2 linked regions of the Homo sapiens genome follow. The protein of the gene in region 2 purifies or fractionates together with the protein of the main gene of each other region. This does not show direct contact. Each region holds a gene or a part of one and is shown on either strand. Other genes may lie near its edges. The genes, in order: VIPAS39 and MATN4.

The links.
Region 1: the proteins of MATN4 (region 2) and VIPAS39 purify together in Homo sapiens (affinity purification with mass spectrometry; 2 studies listed by BioGRID and IntAct, with this or other methods). This does not show direct contact.

The regions. Positions count from the first base shown.
Region 1 is NC_000014.9:77,426,582-77,430,406, reverse strand, and holds the end of VIPAS39 (spermatogenesis-defective protein 39 homolog), read left to right. Parts: intron 1-237; coding exon of another isoform or gene 238-288; exon of another isoform or gene 289-317; intron 318-639; coding exon 640-726; intron 727-1,311; coding exon 1,312-1,401; intron 1,402-1,932; coding exon 1,933-2,037; intron 2,038-2,770; coding exon 2,771-2,791; 3' UTR 2,792-3,732; downstream 3,733-3,825.
Region 2 is NC_000020.11:45,295,322-45,298,321, forward strand, and holds part of MATN4 (matrilin-4 isoform 1 precursor), read right to left. Parts: coding exon 2,849-3,000; intron 2,750-2,848; coding exon 2,597-2,749; intron 1-2,596. UniProt on the Homo sapiens protein: Major component of the extracellular matrix of cartilage.

The sequences.
Region 1 (3,825 bases), on a different chromosome or scaffold from region 2:
GCTTTGGCTATGTGGGATCTTTGGCGGTTCAATATGAATTAGTTTACGTTTTAAATATCTGTTTTTCCATTATGGGTTTAAAAATTTTCTGTTTTTCCTATTTGTTAATTATTTAATTAGTTATATTAACAAAGCAATATGTGTCTGTTGTCAAAATCAAACACTGTATTAAAGTATAGAAAGAGTGAAGTTCCTTTTTCATTTTCTACCTACTCCTATCTCACCCCCTTTCTCAAGGCAAACACTGTTAAAAGTTTAATGGGTAGCTTTCCAGACCTTCCCTCATGAATTTGCAAATAAACATCTGTACTTACAAAGATATGGAAGATGGAATTATTTTCTACATTGATAAGTTCATACTACAAATATTAAGTAAGTTACTTATCCCATTTAGTAGTATTTCAAGACTTTTCCCTGCATTCGTTTCTATAGATCTAAGAAGTTATTTCAAACCTGATTCATTTCCACTCTCTCAAATCCCTTGATTTTTCTGAAAAATTCATTTCTCATTATTTCTGTATCCCTCAGCACCCCCACTCACCCACCACATTATTCTGGTCTGATCGTAAAACATAGACTAACCTAGAATGTGTTGAGTGTGCCTGGCCTACCTGCCGCTACCCCATCTTCCTCTTTCAGAACTGGCTGGGCTATACCAAGAAGAGAGCACCCATTGGCTTCCATCGGGTTGTCGAAATTTTGCACAAGAACAATGCCCCTGTGCAGGTAATGGGTCCTGAAGAGAGTTGGGTACAGGATATTCTTGGAGACCTAACTTTAAGCCTCTTACTGGTCAGTGATGGGAGACCCGATCTGCTCTTGTTTTCCCTTAAAGGCAGCACAATGGCTGCAATAGGCCTCAAGACAGAAAAGGCCAGGGAGTGAAATTCTCTCCCTTTCTCCCCTTTAGAAACAATTCCAAACTGTCCTCTCTGAGTAGCATCTACTGTGTTAGCCCAAGTGGAATACTGATGTACTGTTCAAATGATAGAAAAGGAGAACTCGTGGAGAAAAGACATCAGGGAGAAATGAGCAGAGCACTGGATCACAGCTAGAGCACTCATTGCTGGCATGTGTATCTGGCTCGAGGATCAGGAGAAGTGTGCTCTTTCCTGCTTACTGAGGCAGCATGGAAGTACTGTGTAGCGTTACCTCATTCCCATTGCAGAACTAGTCCTGTGGTTGATGATGGAAACTGGAAACATTAGCTATTGAACTCTTTTGCCTTCTTCAGGACTTTCTTTTCTACCTTGTAGAGCTCTGTGCCTTATGGGTGTTTGAATCATTAATCGGAAGTACCTCTTCCCACAGATATTACAGGAGTATGTCAATCTGGTGGAAGATGTGGACACGAAGTTGAACTTAGCCACTAAGTTCAAGTGCCATGATGTCGTCATTGATGTGAGTCCCCAAGAAATGGGAGTCCTCCGTTAGATCCTCAGTGGCGAAGCAGGGTGGGGATTATAATATTCTCTGTCCAAGATCCTGAGGTGCTCCCACCAGGTTTGACTGAATGGACAGAATAATCTGGCAAGAGTTTGTTTGGAGACCAGCACTCCTGTATTATTTTCCCAGCCCTCTGACTGCTTTCTCTGTGTTTTTATAAACTTGTCGTACTTGGAGAATTCATAGAACTAAATCAAGCTATACAAGCTGTGTAGTCTTCTCTCCAACATGGAGTTCTGTGGGCACTGGACCCCACTGTTATCCCACTATAGCCTCTTAGCCTCTCCTTGAGCGTTGGGTCAAAGTGATAATGACAAAAAGAAATAAGCCCTCATGTGTACACAGTAGCACACACCAGTAGTTCCAGCTACTCAGGAGCCTAAGGAGAGAGGATTGCTTGAGCCCAGGAGTTTGAGACCATCCTGGGCAAAAAGAACCCTGTACAGAGGCTGATTGGAGGTTTGTATTGTTTGTTTTGATGCACAGACCTACCGGGACCTGAAGGATCGTCAACAGTTGCTAGCATACAGGAGTAAGGTAGATAAAGGATCAGCAGAGGAGGAGAAGATTGATGCTCTTCTCAGCAGCTCGGTGAGCAGCTACAGTTCACCCCTCCAGCAGGCTCAGGAGACAGACAGTTCACAAAATAGTACCAAATGTATGTTCCCAAGGTCTGGAAGGATTGCAGTTGGCTAAGCCACATGGATGTAAGGCTCTCCTCTGGCCACAATGTCAAAAGCACTGCTTTGAATAGCAGAAATTACTCCTGAGATGCGGTATGATAGGGGGGTAATCTGGGGACCTCAAGCTAAGACTTAACTGTAATGCTGTGATAATAGTTAAACCTAGCATGTAGGAGAAACTAAATATTGAAAGTATGAAAACATGTTACAGATTCAGAATATCCAAACTGTATGGTCTCGTGGGGATGGATGGGACCTACCAGTTGAAAATAAGAAGTGGGTGAAATAGATGTTAGCTACCTGGGGAGCACAGCTGGTTCGTCTCTCACAGCAGGAAATTACTGAGCTCTTTGTTAATATGAAAGTTAGTTCCCTGTTAGGTATTTTGGAACCTACCTTAGGGTCAAATGACCAAAATTAGGCTTGTAAAATACAAAATAGGTGTTTAATGCATCTTTGAATAAATGAACTCCCCCATATATTTTAAAAAATTTCTCAACATCCCCCACCTCCTGATCTGATTCTACTTTTTCTTTTCCTTACATTATCTAGCTGAGCCTTGTTTTGTTGCATTTTCTCTGCCTTGCTGTAGGGATAAGTGAAAACTGATCACACACTTTCATTGTTTCCTCTTTCCACAGCAAATTCGATGGAAGAATTAAGTGGCATTGACTACCTTGAAGCCTGCCTCATTTCCTCCTCTCCTGCCTGTGAAAGCAGAGAGAGCTCTTCTTTGGGAGAGCTGCGGCATCACATCGCTTGGGCCCATTACCCATGGGCAGTGCCAGCTACTCTTGACACAGATAACTTCAGACTGATCTTCTGTCCAAGGAACATCATCTGAGGATCGAGATCTAAAGCTTTGAGTCATGAGAATGATTCTCTCCACCTGGTGCTCATATGAAGGTGGGAGTGATTTCTAGATTGGGCCCCTACTGGGTAAGATCTCACTTGGTCTGAGAAAAGTGACTGCTCCAGAAAGGAAGAGGTATGGGAGTCATAGGGTGGCTACTGCATTCCACTCAGCTAATTATGATCCAGGACTTGGCGCTGGACATTGGCAGTTCTGCTCTGAATGAAGTCAGAACAGAACCAAAATGGCCTCAGGAAGGAATGCCAGTGTTTCCCAAGACCTCCTGGAGATGCACTCACACCAGACTGCACAGACCCCTCCACATTATGCCACACATGGCCTAGACGTTGTGTTTCCTCAGCCATTTTCCCTCTGCTGCCCCAGTTTACTCTGTCCAAAACCCTAAGGTTCTTCTCTCACTTGAACACAGACGACCTTGCTTGGGTGATGAGACATCCCCTTTATCTCTTCCTCTACTGCTGGCCAAGACCCGTCACTTTATAAGAAGCTCAGATGCAGCAGTGCTGGAGAGCTCTCTCTTTATGCAAAAATCTCATTTCACCAGGAGCTTTCAGAAGTTTCACCTGGGCTAAATTCAGCAGCATTTCTGTTAGGATATTTAGATGGAGGTTTTATTTTCACACTTGGATTCTTGCTCTGTACCAATATTTGCCTCCTTTTCTGTGACTGAACTGGGTTTTTCTGACATGCCTAGACTCCTAATAAAGGTATTTCTTCCTTGGTGCCTTCTCTCCCGCTCCTGGTGGTTTTGTGTAGAATGATGAAATAATTGCTCAGGATCTTAGGATCATTACAAGTCTTCCTCAGTGACTGCATTTAGCA
Region 2 (3,000 bases):
AAAATGCTAATTATCAGACAACACCCCAGACTTGCTGAATTAGAAAATCTAGAGTTGAAGCCCAGCAATTTGTGTTTGTTTTTGTTTTGTTTTTTGAGCTCTGTCTCCCAGGCTGGAGTGCAGTGGTGCAATCTTGGCTCACTGTAACCTCTGCCTCCTGGGTTCAAGTGATTCTCCTGCCTCAGCCTCCCGAGTAGCTGGGATTACAGGCATGTGCCACCATGCCCTGCTAATTTTTTGTATTTTTAGTAGAGACGGGGTTTCACTGTGTTAGCCAGGATGGTCTCGATCCCCTGACCTTGTGATCTGCCCACCTCGGCCTCCCAAAGTGCTGGGATTACAGCCATGAGCCATCATGCCCAGCTGCAATTTGTGTTTTTAAAGGTCCACCAGGTGATTCTGGTGTGACCTAATTTTTAGGAACCACTGATCCTGATCCAACTCTATCTCCCCACACATCAACATCTTGGGGGTTGGGCAGGAGGCCTTACAATTAAAACTGGCACATGTTTTTTCTTAGCAGTACATAAGGTAGTGATGAATCTTAAAATGAATGGTATCTTAGATTCACTGAAATTCTATAAGCATGTGCCATTGTTAAGATTACAGGGAGGCCAGGTGCTGTGGCTCACACCTGTAATCCCAGCACTTTGGGAGGCTGAGGCGGGTGGATCACGAGGTCAGGAGATCAAGACCATCCTGGCTAACACGGTGAAACCCCATCTCTACTAAAACTAGAAAAAATTAGCCGGGCGTGGTGGCATGCGCCTGTTGTCCCAGCTACTCGAGAGGCTGAGGCAGGAGAATCGCTTGAACCTGGCAGGCAGAGGTTGCAGTAAGCCGAGATCGCACCACTGCACTCCAGCCTGGATGACAGAGCGAGACTCCATCTCAAAAAAAAAAAAAAAAAAAAAAAAAAAGATTACAGGGAATGACATAGAAAAAAAAAATGCTACAATAAAAGTACCTTAGGAAAAAAAAGAAAAAGGATTACACGTGGTGAAATAATAAGCACAATACCTGCCATTTAACCTTTGAAAACACTGCCATAATGATTTAAAAGTTGTCTCTTCATCTTAGTCTTATATGTACTATGAACAAACTGCTGGAATCCAGCAAAGACCCCTAACTTCACAGATTTGTTTCTCTAAACAAAGGGTTGGAGACAGGGAACAGTCATACCACCAATTGATAAAGAGCTTCAACCACAAAACCCAGACTTCTCTTAGAACTCTAGAACTAGAGGTAACCTTGGGCAGCCAGTGCCTCTCCTGTTACCGAAGAGAAAAGTTAAGGTAGGTGTGGGGTAAGTGACTCGTCCAAAGTCACACTGCAGGGCCCATAAGAGTCACATAGGAAGAGCTCTGAAAGAGCCCCTAATCTGAAAGAGCCACAATAATTAGAATTGGCTGAGAGCGGGGAGGGAAGGAGAGTTGGGGGAAGGACTGTATGTGTATATTTGTATGTGTATATACATGCACGTGCATGTGCATGCATACACAAACACATATTATATAATATAGTATATATAGTATATTATATATACTTTTTTTGAGACAGGGTCTCACTCTGTCACCAGGCTGGAGTGCAGTAGTGCAATCTCGGCTCACTGCAACCTCCACCTCCCAGGTTCAAGCAATTCTCCTGCCTCAGTGCCCACCACCTTGCCCAGCTAATTTTTGTATTTTTTGGTAAAGACAGGGTTTCACCATGTTGCCAAGGATGGTCTCGAACTCCTGATCTCAAGTGATCCAGCCGCCTCGGCCTCCCAGAGTGCTGGGATTACAGGTGTGAGCCACTGCGCCCAGCCCCCCTACATATATCTAAAAAAAAAAAAAGGCAAATTCTCCAGACCCAAACCAGCCCTACTTAGTCTGTTTCTGGAGCTGCAGTCTGATAAATGGGAAGAAGAGTCACATCTTAAGCCTGGGCTAGTGTCTAAAGTCTCTAGGGTAAAAGTTACCCTGGAGACATTCCCTGTATCACCTAGAGCACAGTACACTGCATGCGATTCAAGAGTCCCCTTCTTCACAGGTAGAGTCAGTCTCTTTTTCCTCAGCTGAGCACCAGATGATGAAGTAGAGGGATTGCACTTATGAGGTATGTTGTCCCCAATAAAAAAAAAAAAAGTCTTTGCATACTTAAAATATATTCAGTCCTGCCACTTTGCCAAGTTCATAAGGTTGAATTCTAACAAGTTCAGGGATATATGCTGTGGCTCCACTTACAAATGCTGTCTGGTGTGCCTTCAAAAAAATTTCCCAAATTATTCTGAACCTCCACTGATTTGGGGGACAGGTAGCCTAGTCTAGGATTTCTTAGACTTTAATATGCTTACAAATCACCTGAGAATCTTGTCGAAGTGGAAATTCTGATTCATTCGGTCTGGAGAGCACCAGAAATGTTTCAGTTCTAAGAAGCTACCGGGTGACCGCCCTGCCGCTGGCCTGCAGACCACATTTGGAGTAGCAAAGCTCTGTCTAGTGAGCCCAACCTCTGGCTATAACTACAAAGTGGGCAGGGAGTGAATAGGAAGGGGAGATATCAGAGGACGGGCAATGAGAGAGAGGAGGAGCCCCGAGAGAGATGCGCTCACCTGGACAGATGCTGCCTCTGAGGTTCTCCAGCAGGTGCGTCATGGTGCCGAAGTCCGGGGCATAGGACACGTGCAGTTCCGCTGGCTCCGAGGCGATCTCGCGCAGCTCCGCCTCCACCGCCTTGCCCACGCCCACGGCGTACATGACGATGCCTGCAAGGCCGGGGTCTCAGAGGGTGCCCCAGGCCTCGGGAAAGCTGCCTCCCAGCGTCTGACCCAACCCCAGCCCACTGTGTCCCATGCCAAGCCCACCTTCCTCCTTGGCGCGCGCTGCCCACACCGAGATGTCATCCTGGGAGCGGCCATCCGTGAAGACCAGGCCAACACGAGGCACGTTAAGGGCACGGGGCCGTGCACCCTGCGCCTCGGAGAAGCTGTGCTCCACCATGTGCCGCAACGCCAGC